Linked DNA regions of Homo sapiens. The protein of the gene in region 1 interacts with the protein of each later gene in a biochemical or structural test. Each region holds a gene or a part of one and is shown in the gene's direction. Other genes may lie near its edges. The genes, in order: MAFF and NFE2L1.

The links.
Region 2: the proteins of MAFF (region 1) and NFE2L1 form a complex in vitro, tested with the Homo sapiens proteins (one study listed by BioGRID).

What each region holds. Positions count from the first base shown.
Region 1 is NC_000022.11:38,194,714-38,207,339, forward strand, and holds the start of MAFF (transcription factor MafF), read left to right. Parts: upstream 1-7,280; 5' UTR 7,281-7,499; exon of another isoform or gene 7,500-7,525; intron 7,526-8,306; exon of another isoform or gene 8,307-8,371; intron 8,372-12,626. UniProt on the Homo sapiens protein: Since they lack a putative transactivation domain, the small Mafs behave as transcriptional repressors when they dimerize among themselves.
Region 2 is NC_000017.11:48,051,359-48,058,658, forward strand, and holds part of NFE2L1 (endoplasmic reticulum membrane sensor NFE2L1), read left to right. Parts: coding exon 1-270; intron 271-5,027; coding exon 5,028-5,240; intron 5,241-5,673; coding exon 5,674-5,763; intron 5,764-5,985; coding exon 5,986-6,144; intron 6,145-6,936; coding exon 6,937-7,300.

The sequences.
Region 1 (12,626 bases):
GCAGTGGTGGTTGTGGTCGCGATGGTGGCTTCTCTCCAGAAGCCAGAGCAGCTGGCATGCAGGAGTGAAGTGCACGGAGCAGCAGTGCCCCAGCGATGGTTTTACAGGCTTGGCACAAAAGGACTCAGACCAGGGCTGGCACATCTCCAGGTATATTGAAGCTGCTGGGGGTGGGGAGGGGGGGGAGGTTTTAGAGGGAAAATGATGGAGGGCTGGGGAAAAATGGAGCATGTGCAGTACTGTTTCAGGTTCCTAAAATATCAGTTTGCAAACATAAAAATGTATTCTCTAAAATAGGCAAAGCACACGAACAAAAGAAGAAAAAACCCAACTGGTTAACAAGCAAATGGGAATGTGTTCAAGCTCATTCCTATTCAGAGAAATGCAAATTTAAATACAATAACGTCATTTGCCTAGGAAATTAGCAGAGCTTAGACAATGAAAACTCCCAGTGTTGGTGAAGTGGAGACGAAAGGTTCATATTCACATGTGGGTGGGAAGGGCCCTTAGCAAATGGCTTCAGCCCTCCTAGCCTCGGTTTCCTCATCTATAAAGTGGGGATGATACAGATACTTCATAGAATTTTGTGAGATGACAGCTCTTAGGCACATAAATGTGATTCATAAGCAATAATACGCCTGTAGTCCCAGCTACTTGGGAGGCTGAGGCAGGAGAATGGCGGGAACCCGGGAGGTGGAGCTTGCAGTGAGCCGAGATCGGGCCACTGCCCTCCAGCCTGGGTGACAGAGCAAGACTCCGTCTCAAAACAAAAACAGTAACAGTAGGTACTGGGGTTGCTTGGATTTATTTTTATTTTTATTTTTTGAGACAGTCTTGCTCTGTCGCCCAGGCTGGAGTGCAGTGGTGAGATCTCAGCTCACTGCAACCTCCGCCTCCTGGGTTCAAGCGATTCTCCTGCCTTAACCTCCGGAGTAGCTGGGGCTACAGGCGCATGCCACCACACTGGGCTAATTGTTGTATTTTTTAGTAGAGACGAGAGTTTCACCATGTTGGCCAGGCTGGTCTCGAACTCCTGGCCTCAAGTGATCCACCTTGGCCTCCCAACATGCTGGGATTACAGGCATGAGCCACTGCGCCCGGCCCAATTGTTTGGGTTTGCTCAAACCTTTTTTCTCTCTGCTGAACAATCACATCTCCAGCCCAGACTCAGGACCCTTGTATTTGCAGAAAGTGGCCCTGGTCAAGAGTCACCCTCTGCCAGGCCCTGCCCGGTTTGCCTTAGGATTGACAAAGTAGAGGGAAGGGAAGAGGAGGAAGAAGGGGAGGAGGGCACAAGGTTCCTCCAGGATCCCACCCGGGGGTGCCCACGCGGAGAAATGGCGTGTGCTCTAATTATCGTCAGACTCTGAAGTGGCCCACGTGAAATATCGAATCTCTCCAGAACAAAACCCAGCAAATCATTCCGGCGGGGGCAGCAGGAGAGAGCGCAGCCCTCGAGTCGGACCAGCCTGAGTTTAAGTCCTTCTCTGCCAGGGACTAGCTGTGCAATACTGGGCAAGATTCCTCACCTGCCACGGTCTCGATTTCCTCATCTGCAACATGGCCATGATAATAGCTAAGTGCTAAGACATGGAGAGGATTGAGTGTGACCTGATACACGGGAGCACCACACCTGGCATCCAGGGTGTGGTCCCTTGGCCTCTGGGCGAACTGATCACTCTGTCCATTTCCTCTGCTTTTGACACCAGGGACCATTTCGTAGAAGACAACTTTTCCACAGATGAGGGTGGGGTGGGGGTGGAGAGTGGGGAGTGTGGGTGGGGGATGGTTTCGGGATGAAACTGTTCCAGTGGCCAGGCGCGGTGGCTCACGCCTGTAATCCCAGCACTTTGGGAGGCTGAGCGGGGCAGATCACCTGAGGTCAGGAGTTTGAGACCAGCCTGGCCAACATGGTGAAACCCCGTCTCTACTAAAAATACAAAAATTAGATGGGCGTGGTGGCGCGTGCCTGTAGTCCCAGCTACTTGGGGGAGGCTGAGGTGGGAGAATCAGTTGAACCCAAAAGGCGGAGGTTGCAGTGAGCCAAGATGGCTACACTGCACTCCAGCCTGGGGGATAGAGCGAGACTCTCTCCAAAAAAAAAAAAAAAAAAAGAAACTGTTCCACCTCAGGTCATCAGGCATATCTGGCCGTAGTTAGATTCTCACAAGGAGCACACAACCTGGATCCCTCAAAAGCGCAGTTCACAATAGGGTTCACGCTCCTAATGAGACTCCAATGCCAGTGCTGATCCTACAGGAGGCGGAGCTCAGGCGGTGACGCTCACTCAGCCCGCTGGTTCCTAACAGGCCACGGACAAACAGTACTGGTCCTCAGCCTGCGATTTGGGGACCCCTGCTGTAGAGGACTCCTCTCTCTAACCTGATATTATTGATCTTTTATTATATACTAAGCGCTGTGCCAGAGGCTTATAAGTGCAAACACATTATGTTGTTTCACAGCCTGCAAAGGAGGCACTATTAGCCCGGTTTATAGAGGGTGGAGATGACGTCAGCTGATGAGGCGTGGGGCCAGGATCTGAACCCGACAGGCTGACTTGAGAGTCCCTACTTTCAAAAAACAATTTTTTTTTTGAGACAGTCTCGCTCTGTCGCCCAGGCTGGAGTGCAATGGCGTGATCTCGGCTCACTGCAACCTCTGCCTCCCAGGTTCAAGCAATTCTCCTGCCTCAGCCTCCTGAGTAGCTAGGATTATAGGCATGTGCCACAACTCCCGACTAATTTTTTTTTTTTTAATTAAGTAGAGACAGGGTTTTGCATGTTGGCCAGGCTGGTCTCAAACTCCTGACCTCAAGTGATCTGCCTGCCTTGGCGTCCCAACGTGCTGGGATTACACTGCGCCTGGCCAAATTTTCTTTTCTTATAAGGACACTGGTCAGATTGGATTAGGGCCTACCGTATATATTTTAATTTACTTATGCCTTTTAAAACTTTATCTCCAAATACAGTCACATTCTGAGATTTTTAGGCATTAGGACTTCAACATACACATTTTAACATTATGAAATTCCACCCATAACACTATCTATCTATATGTATTATTTTCAGAACCATGTCAGAGTAAATTGCAAACATGATGCCTTTTACCTCTAAATACTCTAGTGGGCCAGGCACGGTGGCTCACACCTGTAATCCCAGCTCTTCAGGAGGCCGAGGCAGACAGATGACCTGAGGTCAGGAGTTCAAGACTAGCCTGGCCAACATGGTGAAACCCCCGTCTCTACAAAAATACAAAATTTAGCCGGGCATGATGGTGGGTGCCTGTAATCCCAGCTACTCAGGAGGCTGAGGCAGGAGAATCACTTGAACCCAGGAGGCAGAGGTTGCAGTGAGCCAAGGTCGCACCATTGCACTCCAGCCTGGGTGACAGAGCAAGACTCCATCTCAAAAAAATAAATAAATAAATAAATAAATAAATACTCCAGTGTATATTTCCTAAAATCAAGGACACATTCTCTTCTATGACCACAGGACAAGCATTGAAGCCAGGAAGTTGGGCATCCATGCAGTAATTACCTCATCTACAAACTCCGTGGCAATTTGCCCCTTACTGGTGATATTAACTTTGATCACTTAGCGAAGGTTGTGTCTGCCAAATTTCTCCACTGCAGAGTTATTATTTTTCCTTCCATAATTAATTATCATCTTGTGGGTAAATAACTTGAAACTATGTAAATACTTTCTCATCAAGCTTTCATATCCATTGGTGATTCTTGCTGCAACCCATGATTACTATGGTGGCTGCCTGATGGTCATTTCTTTTTTTTTTTTCTTCCTCTTCTTTTTTTAATAGAGACAAGATTTCGCCATATTGCCCAGGCTGGTCTCAAACTCCGGGCTCAAGTGATCCTCCTGCCTCGGTCTCCCAAAGTGCTGAGAATACAGGTGCGAGCCACCATGCCCAGCCTGAGCTCCCACTTTTAAATAGGACATTGCACCATGGCCCTTGATCTTGACCAGAAAGGGAGCTATGTCTATGGGAAGCAGTCCCTGCAGGGTGGATAATGAGGCACTGACCCCCTTGTTCTGGCAGGCTGGGGATGGGAGTAAAGGATCTAGGCAGCATGGTGTCCAGGAGTGTTGTTCAGGTCCACTGAGAATTCACTCACTAGCTGAGCACCTACAGTGTTCCAGGTGTGGCCCCAGCTCTTGAGAAGCTCATAAAAAAGGGAGTAGATTGGGAGGCTGAGGCAGAAGGAAGGCTTGAGGCCAAGGGTTCAAGATCAACCTATGCAATATGGTGAGACCTCCATCTCTGCAAAAAATAGAAAAATTATCCAGGCACAGTGATGCACACTTGTAGTCCCAACTACTCGGGAGGCTGAGGTGAGAGGATCGCTTGAGCCCAGAAGTTCAAGGCTGCAGTGAGCTATGATCATGCCACTGCACTCCAGCCTGGGCAACAGGGCAAGACCCTGTTTTGTTTTGTTTTGGTTTTGGTTTTAAAGGGGGTGGGGGGTAGAGAAAATAGACAACTCACCATTGTGCAGTTTCTAAAACTGAGAACTTTCCTACCCCAAAGGTTAACCTAGGTGGCTCTTTCTGCTATGCACATGGAGAGGACTGAGCAATTGGTTTTTAGAGATCCTTTTGAGTGCTAGACAAAGCTGCCTCAACATTTGGTCACTTGGGAAACTAGTGGGCCAATTTGCATACCAAACCCACAGCCTGTGGGAGGGAACGGAAAGAAGCCATAGTGTCTGGTGGACCAAGGCACAGAGGCAGGAAAGCAAGACAAGGGCGCTGAAATCGAATTTGCTACATCAAGGAAAGTGGGGGGCTGGGCGCGGTGGCTCACGCGTGTAATCCCAGCACTTTGGGAGGCCGAGGCGGGTGGATCACGAGGTCAGGAGATCGACACCACGGTGAAACCCCGTCTCTACTAAAAATACAAAAAAAAAAAATTAGGAGGGCGCGGTGGCGGGCGCCTGTAGTCCCAGCTACTCGGGAGGCTGAGGCTGGAGAATGGCGTGAACCCGGGAGGTGGAGCTTGCAGTGAGCTGAGATCGCGCCACTGCACTCCAGCCTGGGGCAACACAGCGAGACTCCGGCTCAAAAAAAAAAAAAAAAAAAGGAAAGTGGGGATCCTTACTGGTGATCAGGGTGCCACATAGAGGCCTACCCATTTGGAGAGGCCCTATGCCCTCCACAGTGGAGTAAGTGCCATGATGTCGGCTTCACAGGAGGGACTGTGGGAGCGATGGAATTTCAGGCAGTGGGAACATCATGAGCAAAGGAAAGCAGGGGATGAACAGCAACATCCACCCCGCACGTGGCCTCCAAAGCCATCTCTTTTGGGTGGGGCTTCCCACCACGGCGCACACCCCTCATGTTTATGTGGCCCTCCTCCCCTGGTTGCGATGTACCCCCAAACATCTGGGCCAGGAATCATTCAGACCTGGATACCAATTCCAGTGCTTGTACTTCCTAGCTGAGTGAATTTAGAAAGTCACCTTCACCTCTCTGAGCCTCCAGTCATGTATTCCTTCAACATGTATTTACTGTGGGCCTACTATGTGCCAAGCACTACTCCAGGCACTGGGCAGGCAGTGGTGAACAAGATAAGCCTGGCCAGGCGCAGTGGCTCATGTCTGCAATCCCAACACTTTGGGAGGCCGAGGTGGGTGGCCTGAGGTCAGGGGTTCAAAACCAGCCTGGCTGGGCATGGTGACTCACCTGTAGTCCAGCTACTGGGGGGCTGAATTCCTTGAACCTGGGAGGCGGAGGTTGCAGTGAGCCAAGATTATGCCACTGCACTCCAGCCTGGGCAACAGAGTGAGACTCTGTCTCAAAAAAAAAAAAAGAAAAAGAAAAAGAAGCAAGGCCTGCCTTCATAAAACATACATTCTGGTTGGGGAAGACAGACAATAACCAGCACTCACATACATAAATGATGAAACACCCTACAGAAGTATTAAGATAATATAAGAACAAATTTCAAGGCTGGGTGCGGTGGCTTGCGCCTGTAATCCCATTACTTTGGGAGGCCAGCGTGGGTGGATTGCCTGAGTCCAGGAGTTTGAGACCAGTTTGGGCAACATGGCAAAACCCTGTCTCTACAAAAAAAAAAAAAAAAAAAAAAAAAAAAAAATACAAAAAATGAACCTAGCATGGTGGTGTGTGCTTATGGTCCCAGCTACTTGGGAGGCTAAGGTGGGAGAATGGCTGGAGTCCAGGAGAAGGAGGTTGCAGTGAGCCGAGATTGTGCCACTGCACTCCAGCCTGGGTGACAGAGTGAGACCCTGTCTCGAAAAAAAAAAAAAAATTCAGAGGTGAAGACTGCTTTAACCAGGGTGGTCAGGAAATGTCTCTCTGAGGCAGTGACATCCGGGCTGACGTGAAAGATGAGAAAGAGTCAGGCAAGTGAACAGAAGACCAGACAGCCAGTGCCAAGGGCCTGTCGCAGGAATGAGCTTGGTATGTTTGGGGGACAGAAAGAAGGGCACTGTGGCCGAAGAGCAGTGGATGAGGAGAGAGTGGCCAAAGAAGGTGTGTAAACAACCTGAGCTTTGTTTTGAGAAGAACATTGGCTGGTATAGAAAGAAAGACTTTGGAGGCAAAGTAGGGAGCCTCGGAGGCTGCTGCCATTGTCCGGGTAAGCTGATGGTGCCGAGACCAGGTGCCATGACTGGAGGTGGTGAGAAATGGTCCTATGCAGGAGACCTGGAGACACCGCTAGCTTGAGTCCTGAGGTGGGGAGGAAGGGAGAGGGAGGGATGGAGCCAGGCTCCAAGGTTTTGGCTTGAGCAGCTGAGATGGGGTGGCAAGGGAGCAGAGGTAGGGCTGACGATCAGGAGCGGGTTTTTGGGCCGAGTCCTCTGCAGTGCCCATCTGACACCCACTGGATGCGCAGAGTGGGCAGCTGGCTATGAGTCTGGAACTCAGAGAAGCTGTTCGCTCCGGAAATACAAACCTGGGGCTCATAGCCATATAAATGTCATTTAAAGCCACGGGACTGGATGAGATCATTAAGGCAGAAGGTCTAGGTCGAAAGAAGAGGGCCAGGACCACTACCTGTAAAATGAGCCAATGACACCTACACCCACGGGGCTCTCGCGAGGTGTCACGTGAACGCACCCAGCGAGCCCTGGAACCAGGCAGAGAATCGCGGCAGCCCCGGGGGCGGGGCTTCCAGGGGGCGGGGTCATACGGGGGCGGGGCCGAGGGACCAAGCGGCCGCTCCTGGCCGGAGGGCGGCCGGGTCGGTGACGTCACCGCATGACTGGGTTTTTATGAATGAAAGGAATCCTGTGAGTGAGTAATTCCGGGAAGCTCGCCTTACAACTCCGCGCGGCCTCGGCCCCCTGCGCCGCCCGCCCCACAACAAAACTCAGCGCAGCGCTCCCGGGCGCCCGGTTCAGAGCGACCTGCGGCTCAGAGCGGAGGGGAGACTGACCGGAGCGCGGATCGGGACAGCGGCCGGGACAGCGGCGAGACGCGCGTGTGTGAGCGCGCCGGACCAAGCGGGCCCAGAAGCGGGTGAGGAACGCGGGACCAGGAGGACGGTGCGCGGGACCCCAAGGCGGCAGGGTTTCTGCGTCCCGGGATGCGCCTGGGGTGGGCGCCCGGGCCCGATCCGTCGGGGCTCCCGGAGCTCCATCGCCCGGACGGCTCGGGGCGGGGAGAAGGGAGCGGCCGTCCCGGGGACGCCGAGGACGGGGCCGAGGCCAGCTCGGGGGAGTGGGGGTGGAGACGGGGCCCCTTCCCGGGGCGCGGGCGGGTAGGCGGCGGCGCCGGGAGGAAGGGGCAGCGCAGGCCGGCGATCTCCGCGTCCGCCCGGCGGGGGCGGGGGCGCTGTGCTCCTACGTGACTCGGTGGGAACAGGCCCTGGCCCGGCGCCCGCGGGCGGTGCGTGCGCGGTTTGTTTACGTCCGAGGGCGGGCGTGTGTTCCCTGGCGGGCGGCCTGGGTATCCTGCCCGGTGCGTGCGTGCGCTGTGTACCTCGGGGGCGTGTGTGCGTGTGTTGTGCTTGTGTGTGCGTGTCCGCGCGCGCGCTCCCTGGGGCCTGTACACCAGCAGTGTGTACCTCGGAGAGGGCGTGCCCTGGGCCGGCCACCGGAGTAAACGCGGAACAAGGACCCGAGCGAAGGAAGCGGACCCGTGCGTCTTCGCACGGGGTCTGGGAATTCTGGCCCGGGCCGCCCCAGTCCTACTACCCGGGGCTGTCCGTCCCCGGCTCTCCCCGGAGTTTCCCAGGGCCTCCGCCACGTGACCCCAGTGTTTGTCTCCCGCCCAGAGCCCGCGCCCGCAGCCACAGGGTGGGGCAAGGTATCAAAGACCCCACCCAGCTGAGCTAGGAGTGAGGGATGTGAGCCACCCCCGCTTGGCACCCCGGTGGATCTGGTAACAAAGTGAGTTGGAGCCCAGGTTCTTGTCCCCAGATTTTGGGGCTTCCTGGGGAGGGAAGAACCAAGGGACTCTCGTTCGTCCCCAGGGTTGCCCATCCCCTCAGTCCCATGAGAACAGGAAGGGCCAGAAAACCTTGACTGCAAGGGTGCGGCGCAGGGAGAGGACCACAGGCTTTTAGCTAGTCCGGGTTCTGGAGGCTGTACCTGCTAGGTCGTGGAGGATGGGGCGGAGCCGGTTTCCGCTCTCCTGGTAGTTTCAGTTCACAAGTGGGACTGGTGAGACTAGACTGACCTACAGCTGGACGCCGGAAGCTAGCTGAGGCTCTGAGCCAGCCGACAGACCCCGAGTGCCCTCACCCTGGGCCAGGCAGGGTCAGTAGGCATTGGGGATAGAACTCTGACTGCACGGAGGGTTAATGAGTGAGGGGTGGGGCCTGACCTAGCCGCCACCCACCCACTCACCCAATAGCCCTGCAGAAAGCACCTGTTTGTCGTAGCCGCCTGCAGGATGGGCTGGGGGCTAGAGATTCCTTGGTCTTAATCCACCTTCCCCCTCCACCCACCCACCCACGGTCTATGGAATTGTGGGAGGGGAGCAATTGAACTTGCTAGGGTGAGGAACCAATGATCTTTTGACTTTGGATCTTTGAACCCTGGGTGAGCTCTGCTACAGCAGCCCGGACCCTCAGTATTCCCATCTACCACTGGGAACTAGGTAACAGCCAGGATGGCAGGATGGTGGGTAGAAGGGGGAAGCTCTGGAAGTCTGTGCAGACAGCGTATTTTCCAGGTGAATTGTGGAAGAGAAAGCAGGGCTGACAGCCCCATGCCAGGAGCTGGGGGTACCCAAGAGTAGGTGGGGTTTGAGTCAGGAGGGTTGGGGCCAGGAGCACAGGAACCAGACAGGCCCACCCTCAAAGCTGGGCAGGAAACATTACAAAGTAGGGCCTGGGGTCAGGGGATGAGGGGAAGTGGCTGGTTGACTCAGTCCCAGATGGAAAGTTAGCACTGAGAAGTTTAACTTCCCATTGAATCACCCCTGGGCCCTGCATTGCCATTGGGCCCTTGTCCTGGACCAGATGCCAGGGATGAGATGAACAGACCAGATCCAGAGACTGCCCTCTGGGAGCTTATAGCTCAGCAGCGGACACAAACTTGAAAAAAGATCCACAGAAGTAAATGCAAAACACAGCTTAGATGGGTGATGTGAGGGAGAAGTCACTGTGGTTTGAAAGTACATAACAGCGCTCTGACTTAGCCAGGGCAATCAAGGAAGGCTTCCCTGGGGAGGTGACTAGTGTGCTGAGTCTGATAGAGTGGTGGTTGTCTGTGAAGCCCTTGAAGGCAGGAGCTGTGATTCACTTCAGGGTCTCCAGGGCCCAGCACAGAGCCTGGAACATAGTAGGTGCTTCTTGGATGTTTGCTGATTGAATGAATGAGCCCTGGATCCCTGCCCTCTAAGAGCTCCACAACACATGGAGAAAAAGGCCTGGGAACCCCAGAGAAACAGGAAGCCAGGGCAGGGGCTGGGGGAATCTTGAAGCAGTCTCCCAAAAGCGAGCAAATCCTTCAGGACTCAGGCAACTTCCTCCCTCACACACACAGGCATGCACTGCCCGCTTGTCCCTTTGGGAAACATTCAGGGATAGTAGAATTTGCTGTCTGTTCATTCATCTGTTAGCATACGATCCTGGGAGAGAGTGGACAGGAATACGGTTGAGGCCTGAGGACCCTACTGTGTTGGCTTGCGGGGAGGCTGGCATTGCAGGGTTTTGAAATGGGCCAAGCACGGACAGGCTCGTGGGTTTGTGTCAGTAGTGATTCCTCTGACAGCTCTTGGGGGAGGATCAATGATGGGGATTGGAGACGGAGGGCAAGGCAAGAGGCTGGTGAGCAGGCGGTTGTGGTCATGGTCCAGATGAAGGAGGAAGTGGTCTGTGGCTGTGCAGGTGGAGAAGAGGGCTAGTCTGATAGTCTGATAGTTTGTGTCTCATGCCCCCACCTCCAGGAAGCCTTCACCGCTTTCCTTTCCCTACCTCCATTCTGCTGGTGGTCTTGGAGCTCTGGGCCAGAATCTGAAACTCTAAACTCAGAGACAGTCATTGTTGGAAGGTACCTTAGGCTCGGAGGACGTTTGGCATAGTGGGAAAACTGAGGCCCAGAGAGAGGGAGTGCCGTACCTGAGGCCACACAGCGAGTGTGAGAGGGTACCTGAACTGGGGCTGGAACCCCAGGCCGTTGCTTCTCTGTGGTGCTTGGTTCTTCCAGCCTTGCTCCCCTTCCAGCAGGGAGGAGGCTCCAGCAGTGCTGACTGCCAAGAGCTAGGAAAACACATTTTTTCCCTGTCCTCACAGAGCGAGCAGAATGGCTCAGCAGCCAGAAAGGAGCCCATGCCAGCGGGTGGGCCTTCTACAGGATGTCTCTGGAGTGGACTGGTGGGGCCAGGGAGGGGGACGTTGGAGGGTTGTGGCTGCTGACTGGACAAGGCAGTTGTCAGTCCCTCAAGAGTCACCTCTCTCCTTATGCCTCCAGAAGACGTCATGAACCTGCAGACCCTGGAGGTCAGCTCTGCTGGCTTCCAAGGGAAGAAGCCAGGGAGAGGTGGTGGTGGCCGACATAGAAGACAGAGGACCCCTGGGTTCCAGTCCGCCACGGCTACCAAACAGTGGCTTGGTTGCCTCAGGTGCTGAACAGGGGATCGGATCAGCTACTATTTCTCAGGCCCAGGGTCAGCCAGCCTGGCAAAGGCAGAGGACCCAGGCCCCTTGGCAGCCCCTGGCCTGGGGTTGGCAGCGGAAAGCCTGAGGTTACCAGAAAGTTCCCCCTTCTTGTGACTTTCCCCCTGTGATTGCCTGACTGCTGAGCTAGGACATTCCTGGGCAAACGTGGGTGCCTCAGCTGACATCCAGGATGCGGTTGAGGGGGCTGAGGCTCGGACAGGAGGGCATGGAGGAGTGGGGGAAGAGCAGGTTCAAAACCTTCCTAGCACCTGAGGGTATTTACAATCACAGCCAGCTTCCGCTATTATCAAGGATAGGGAATGGCTGATGGTTCCATCTCTCAGGCCTGGTCTGGAGGCAGTGTTGAGGATTCTAGGCTGTGTCCAAGCTCAGGAGAAAACAGTTCTGTGCTGAGAAAGACTCAGGGGCTGTGGCCTGCCTCACTGGGAATTGGTGCTGTGTGTGGTTAGTGATGTCTCTGTTGCTTGTGGATAGTGGGATGATGGTGAGATGAGGTGATCTTTCTTGCCTATGCCTCCTTTTTTTTTTTTTTTTTTTTTGATGGAGTCTCGCTCTGTTGCCCAGGCTGGAGTCCAGTGGCTTGTTCTCAGCTCACTGAAACCTCCACCTCCCGGGTTCATGCAATTCTTCTGCCTCAGCCTCCCAAGTAGCTGGGACTATAGGTGTGCGCCACCACACCTGGCTAATTTTTGCATTTTTTTTTTTCTTTAGTAGAGACAGGATTTCACCATGTTGGCCAGGCCGTTCTTGAACTCCTGGCCTCAGATGATCTGCCCACCTTGGCCTCCCAAAGTGCTGGGATTACAGGCGTGAGCCACCACGCCTGGCCTTGCCTAAGCCTTTATATTTTACACACCAAGATTATTGTGATTATTCCCACTTAGCAAGGAATCCAGGACTCAGGAAAAATGACTTGTGCATGAGGCCAGACTGTGCCTCTGAGGTTCTGTATCAGCCGCAACACCCAAAGGGCAGTTGATTAACTTGCGTGGGGAGAGGCTTCCCTTCTCCCATTGGGTCTTTCTGTGTAGCTCAGGTGGCCAAGCATCACTGCACGTGCCAGCTCCCCAAACGGCTGGTAAGGGGGCCTGGATACTTAACTGTAACTTGCAAATCGTATCCCTAGCGGGCCCAACACAAATCCTGGAGAATCAGAGCTGGGGTGGCCTTGGAAACTGGCAAGTCCAGCTTCATCTTCACAGGGCTAGGGAAACAGGGCCCAGGGAGGTCGCCCTGCCAGGGCCACACAGGGAGGAGGTGTGTGGCTCCATGTGGCCTCAGGCCTGAATTCTATTATTATTATTATTATTATTTTTGAGATGGAGTCTTGCTCTGTCACCCAGGCTGGAGTGCAGTCGCGTAATCTCGGCTCACTGCAACCTCTGCCTCCCAGGTTCTAAGCGATTCTCCTGCCTCAGCCTCCTGAGTAGTTGGGACTACAGGTGTGTGCCACCAGGCCCAGCTAATTTTTTGTATTTTTAGTACAGACAGGGTTTCACTGTGTTAGCCATGATGGT
Region 2 (7,300 bases), on another chromosome or scaffold:
CGGCGGCTCCTCAGTCAGGTGAGGGCCCTGGACAGGTTCCAGGTGCCAACCACTGAGGTAAATGCCTGGCTGGTTCACCGAGACCCAGAGGGGTCTGTCTCTGGCAGTCAGCCCAACTCAGGCCTCGCCCTCGAGAGTTCCAGTGGCCTCCAAGATGTGACAGGCCCAGACAACGGGGTGCGAGAAAGCGAAACGGAGCAGGGATTCGGTGAAGATTTGGAGGATTTGGGGGCTGTAGCCCCCCCAGTCAGTGGAGACTTAACCAAAGAGGTTAGTGGACCTGTGGTGGGTGTGTGGGGCCTGGGGCTTGGGGGTGGGCTGGTCCCAAAGGATTGTGGTCAGAACACTGAGCCCTGTAAAGAGCCAGACAGGTTTCAGCAGGGCCTCAGGCACTGTTCTTGGGTAGGGATGGGCTGAACTTTCTGACTTTAGGATTGGGGGCTGGGAGCATTTCCCTGTGTTGAACCATTGACCTACCTCTAAATGTACTGTCAGGGCAGTGGGAGGTTCCTACACATGCCAGGGTGTTTACTGCTTGGATTTCAGCGTGACTGCTGGAGGCCTGGGGTGGGGGAGGAGTCATGTTGTGATGGGCTTTGATGCAGTGTACATCTGTTGCTAAGACACAAATACTTTTTGGACTCTTGTTTTGTACCTCCCCCCACATCAGAACACAGACATACCCTGAAGTTCTCCTTTGTGGCGAGGCCTGTTGTTGTATTGTCCTGATAATTCAGACCTCCTGGGCCTGAGCCAAAGGGTAGATTTGGATAGTTATTCTTGGCCAGGAGAGGGCCAAGGCTTCCAATCTTTGCAAAAGGCCCACTGCAGGGAGTAGGGAAGAGAAGTCTGGGAGCTAGAAAGAGAAACTGCATTCTGCTGCCCAAGTCAACTTGCTTTGAGCTGTCAGAAGAGATCCTTAGCTCTTGTCACATGGCTGACATACTGTTCTGGGCAGAAAGCGATGCAGTTCTTTGCCTTTCAAGATGTGAATGGCTGCTGCTGCCCCTGCCTCACCAACATAAGATTGCTTTGAGCTCTGGGTTTGTATGGCTCTCGCTTGCCATCCAGCCTTAAGTAGCCGGGAAAGAGGCCCACTGCACTCCCCTGGCCATTAGGGAAGGAGAAAGCCCGATTGGGTTTTTGGAGGTGGCATGTGAAGGAATGTAAAAAGTTTTACAGATGTTACAGAAATGGGCTTCTCTGCCTGCCAGGTCAGACCACGTTTTCCCTCCTTCCCTGCTCTGTAGTCTTTTCCTGAGCTTAGTTCTCTGACTGTTAGTGACTGTCAAAGAGTATGGCTTGTTCTAGGCCAGTGGTCCTCAACTGGGGGTGATTTTGTCCCCGAGGGTGCAGGTGGCAATATCGTGAAACAGTTTTGGTTGTCACATCTTGGGGCGGGGTTGCTACTGGCACCTAGTGGGTAGGGGCCAAGGATGCTGGTTAACATCTTGAATGGCACAGAACACCTTCAAACAACAGATTTGTCTGACCCCAAGTGTCAGTAGTGCAGGGATTGAGACACTCGGCTCTGTGCTCAAATGGCTCATACTGGACCTGCTTTGAGAGAGACTAGGATTATCTGAGCGCAGGAGCCAGGAACATTTCTTACCTTTCAGGGCCTGTTAATTTAGCTTCTTACAGGGCCACTTGGAACTTCACCTCTCTTCTGCTTCCCCTTTCCTTCAAGTGGGCTCTAATCTTGGCACAGTGTTCTGAAGTGTGCTTCCCAGTCTCTGCTCTATGCTCCTCCCCCAGGGTAGCTCCCCCAGGGGTGGGTGTAACTGGGTTTGCTCCTGGAAACCCTGCAGGGTAGCTGCATATCTGTTCCTGCTGGGATGGGATGGGATATTTTGGATATTATTGGGTGGGTTGGGGCCGAATGGGATGGGACTTTGACCCTGCTTTCCTCTGTTTCTTGGCCCTCGTGAAGGTTGTGCTTTTCCTCATCTCAGGCCTTTATAACTCCCTTTGGGAGGTGGGGTGGGTCAGCATTAGGGGCCCAGGCTGGGTATGGGGGAAGGGAGGATTATTATGTGTCTAGAACAACATTTCCTCAGCAACTCAGGGATAAAAATACCCAGGTCCAGAGCATGTGACAGGCACTGCTGGAACCGGTATTATCCCTGGGGTGGCAGTACTCCCCCGCTGCCAGGCCTGCTCTATGGACAGCCATAGCCTAGGCTGTTGTCAGGGATAGGATTCCCCTTGAGATTGGCATTCTGCCCAGAGCAGGGGGGTGGCCTGTTTACAGCTCTTTCCAGGCTAGGAGCTGACTGTGACCAGAGAGAACATACTGTCTCTCTGACCTGACCTTAGGCTCCAGGGGAGCAGCAGTGGGGAGGGAGCTAAATTTCCCCTCGAGAAACCAATCCAGGGAGTCTGAATTGTGATACTGAGTCTGTGAGGGGCTTCTTTCCTGCTTGGATGAGATATGGGCCAGGAATCAGGCAGAGAATGCTCTTGAATAAAGCCGGGGTGAAAGGGGAGGGGGGACATTTGTGGCCAGGAGAATGCAGAGCACCTGTCTCCCTAAGTATGGGGCTTCAGGGTTGTGTCTCCCCTCCTCTTGCTTGGGGCTAGGCTTGGCCAGCACTGTGACATTGCTGCACGTGGGCAAAATGGCCTTCCCCTTTTCTCTAGTCTGGCCTATTTTGGGGTGACAAAACTTACGGCTTATGGTGGGCCTGGGTGCCCTGGGTTCCTGCCCAGCCTGGCTCGTGATCCCTGGCCTTGAGAACTGGCCACTGCCTTCCTGAGGAATGGGATAACTCTTTCCACTTCCAGCAAATAATTTAGATTCCCAGAGAATCTGCGGGAGAAGTGTCTGCCCAGTCCTGAGTGGGCTGGATGAGCAAGATGCGACAGGAGGGAGGAGAGTGGCACCCCTTCCCCCAGGGCTCTCACTGCGCCACCCCAGCTGACTGACTGGGCTGGGTGGGGCTGCCCGCCCCTGGGCGCATCTCCTCAAGGAGACGGAGGCGGCCCAGGGATGGGCTGGTTCCTTGCGGCAGCTTCTCCAGCTGCCCTGATGCAGAGATTGGCTCCCGTCTGCAGCTAGGTAACAGGCGGTGGGAGGGGATTGGCTCCTTCCGCATCTCCAGCGGAGACTTGGGGGAGGAGATTGGCTCTCGGCGCAGCCTAGGTAACGACAGTGGGAGGGGATTGGCTCTTTGCGCAGCCCAGCTGCTGACCTGGGGGAGGGGATTGGCTCTCTGCAGCCTCAGCAGTGACCTGCGGGGTGGGAGGGGGTGGGGATTGGCTCCCTGCTGCAGCCTAGGTAACAAGTTTGGGGGGCGTGGGGGGGAGGAGCGGGAGGATAGGCCCAGGAGGGAGCTTGCTTTCCTCTGCAGCTTGAGCACGGAGCATGGGGTGGGAGTCCCATCTCACTGCAGCCTCTGCGGTGAGCTCAGGGTGGGGGCAGCTGGGCGCCTGAGTGGAACTGGGGTTGTGAGGTGGGAGGGGGCTGCTCAAGGATGGAGGAAGGGGGCTGGCTGGGCCGCCCAGGCAGCAGCACGGGCGGGGCACCCTCCTCAGGCCCCTCGGAGCTAGCAAGGGGCCACCCTTCCAGCCTGGTGTGCTCCCTGAAAGCCAAGAGCTCCTTGCAGCCCCCTGTCCGGCTTCCCGGCACCGGCTGCCCTGGGGCTCATCTCGCAGACCATGACCCGCCTGGACCGCAGCTCTCACAGTGGTGGGGGCCATGCCAAAGGCAGCCGGCCCCTTAACTCTTTGCTGGCTGGTCACCGGGTGGCCCAGCCCGCCTCTGCTCCTGGGTCCAGGGCTTCTGTTCAGGTTGGTGTATGTGGGGAGACTAAAGTAGTACGTCTGGGAGGTCTTAGGGTCAGGGGGGGTTAATGGGAGAAGAATACCGACTTAGAGGTAGGGAGGAGGGTCTGATCTAAGGAAATTGCTTTCTGGAAAGTGTATGTCTGCATTTTAACCCCTGGATGGAAGGCAACACTTTAGGGTTTCTTCAGGCTTGTAGGGAGGGCTCGACTACAGGGGGGTGCCATGTATAGGAAGCCCAAATAGCTCTATTTATTGGGGTTATATGCTGTTAGTGGGGGTGGCAGTTGGTGCAGCAACTGTTCACGAGCCACCAGGGTAGAGCGGGAGGGAAGCATTTTTGGTGCCCAAGGTGGCAGTTGTAGCTGAGCAGTGATGGGGTTTATGTCCTTGAGGGGGTTGACTGATGGGGATTTGGTGAGTCCTGGGGTATGGTGAGGGAATGAGAGCACTGGTGTAGGGGACACAGTGAGGCTGGCCCGAGCAGGGGGTGGGGTGCACCCCTGGGGATCATCTGACTGCCTGAGCCTCCCTGGAATGGAGGCAGCAGCTAGGATCAGCTGAGAGGGAATTCTGGCGGGGATGAGTCTTGAGGTGAGCCTGGGCTTGAGGAGTTGTGGGTGTTCAGCCTTACTCTTGCTGCCAGCTGGGGAATGGGGAATGGCTATAGGAAGGGCTGGAGACAGCATGGCGTTGTCATTGGTTGCATCAGGTGGTTGGAAATGCAGGGATTTTCCTCTCTAGCCCACCCCACCCCTTTATGCAAATGAAATGGTACCACAGGCTGATGCAAGCCTGGCCACTGCTAAGTAATTCTGCATGACAATTCGCTCTTGCTTGCCATGGCCAGCTTCCTCCAAACCAAGTTTTAAGGGGTCCAATCCCCAAAGCTAGAGGTGTCTCCTGATGTTCCCCTTCTTTCTTATGTAGGGGGGAGGCGGCCCTGCCTTTTGTCTGGGTGTGTCTTGGTCCAGATCCTAATCCTTTGCACCCTTATGGTGATAGTCACACTAATGGTTTTGCTAGTGGCTCTTTTTTTTTGTGGGAAGGGGATAGTGTCTGGAAGTAGATGAATGAACACTTGCTGGTGCAGGGACCAGGGGGTAAAGGCTGGCAGGTGAAGAGCTGGGAGGGGCCCCACCCAGGACTAACTGGGGTGACACTAGGAGGGAACTCTGAGGGGCAGGACAAGGAAGGGACCTTGGGATCTTAGAGCTAAAGTCATGTGATCTGTCTTTCAGGACATAGATCTGATTGACATCCTTTGGCGACAGGATATTGATCTGGGGGCTGGGCGTGAGGTTTTTGACTATAGTCACCGCCAGAAGGAGCAGGATGTGGAGAAGGAGCTGCGAGATGGAGGCGAGCAGGACACCTGGGCAGGCGAGGGCGCGGAAGCTCTGGCACGGAACCTGCTAGTGGATGGAGAGACTGGGGAGAGCTTCCCTGCACAGGTACCATCGCCCCTGCTCACTGGGCTCTCTTCTTGTCCCTACTACCCTGACACAAACCAGGCTGGAGTTCTTCCAGAAACTTCCTTTAGAGAAGACAGGTGGTGTGTGGGGTGGACCTGAATTTCTGTTTTGGGTTGGGGTCTGTAAGTCACAGTGGCTGAGCCTTGGAAGGGGGGAGTGGAAAGCAGCAGATGCAGAATGGCCAGGCCGTGGCAACAGACAGTGCAAGGGAGGCAGAGCATGTAGCATCTTCCTGCTTGCTTCAGGACTCTTTCACTCTCTTCTGTTGTTTCTGGGAGTTTGGGACTCGGGGCCAGCCATTAGCCTGGGAATGGGAGGGAGACTGCAGGGCTTCAGCCATTCTGGGAAAGAAGCTTCAGCCCCAGGCAGCCAAGGCCCAGGTCAATCAGACTTACAGTTCCTGTTGCCACAGGTGCCTAGTGGGGAGGACCAGACGGCCCTGTCCCTGGAAGAGTGCCTTAGGCTGCTGGAAGCCACCTGCCCCTTTGGGGAGAATGCTGAGGTGAGCAGGACTCCAGTGAGAGTCCACCAAGTGAGCAGGGCAGCCTGTACCTGGTGTGTCCCTCCATGGCTGAGGGGCCAGCTGTTGGTTCTGGCCTTATTCTGGCTGCTGGGGGTAAATGCAGAGGAAGGAAGAACAGAAACAGGTCCAGGTGGTAATCTCTGGGAGGAAAGCACAAGGTTTTTCCTTCCCCCTTGTTAAAGCCTCTGTGTTTTGCCCTAGTTTCCAGCAGACATTTCCAGCATAACAGAAGCAGTGCCTAGTGAGAGTGAGCCCCCTGCTCTTCAAAACAACCTCTTGTCTCCTCTTCTGACCGGGACAGAGTCACCATTTGATTTGGAACAGCAGTGGCAAGATCTCATGTCCATCATGGAAATGCAGGTAGGATTGTCGGAACCGGGCACAAACCTATTGGATTTTGCACAGATTGTCTTAGCACTCAGTTGCTTTTCCATCTCCAAGGAGAGAAAGTGTAATACTTTCCCTGAATCATAGAGAAGTGGGGACAATGAGAAGAAACCTGTCCAGGTGTGTCCTTGGGGCAATGGGAGCTGGAGACAGGTAGGGTTTGGGTTAAATAAAACTCAGGACTCAGCCTTCCAAATCAGGGCCTGCCTCCTGGGTGTGCCTTCTTCCTTTCCTTCAGGCAGATAGGCACTTGGCTGAATGCTTCCAAGGTTGTGCGTTAATAATAGCTGACATTCACATGGTGCTTCACAGCCATCGTTCGCTCACTTGGCCCTCACAGTCATCTAGTCAGCCTTTATCTCAAAGGTGAGGAAATTGAAGCTCAGAGGTTAAATGATGTGCCCATCGTCACACAGCAAGTGGTGCAGCTAGGTTTTCTGACTTAAGTCTGGGTGTTCTTTTCACTGTGCTGATTTTGCAGTAACAAGGTAGTGTTTTCTTCCTCTCCCTCCAAGATGGGGGAGTCTGGCCAAACATGAGGAAAAGCTGATCAGTCCTATATTAGGGTGGAGCCTACATGGAAGAACCCATCTCTGCCAGGCCTGGTGGACGAAGCTGGGTCAGGAGCTGACACTGTGGGCTTTGGTTTATAGTATTTTGCCTTTACACCCATGCAGCTGTGCCTCTGTTGGGTGCCTGCAGTGTGTGAGCCCCAGGGGAGGGAGTCAGTTCCTAGTGAACAGTGGTGCTCTTCTCCCCTCCCAGGCCATGGAAGTGAACACATCAGCAAGTGAAATCCTGTACAGTGCCCCTCCTGGAGACCCACTGAGCACCAACTACAGCCTTGCCCCCAACACTCCCATCAATCAGAATGTCAGCCTGCATCAGGCGTCCCTGGGGGGCTGCAGCCAGGACTTCTTACTCTTCAGCCCCGAGGTGGAAAGCCTGCCTGTGGCCAGTAGCTCCACGCTGCTCCCGTTGGCCCCCAGCAATTCTACCAGCCTCAACTCCACCTTCGGCTCCACCAACCTGACAGGGCTCTTCTTTCCACCCCAGCTCAATGGCACAGCCAATGACACAGCAGGCCCAGAGCTGCCTGACCCTTTGGGGGGTCTGTTAGATGAAGCTA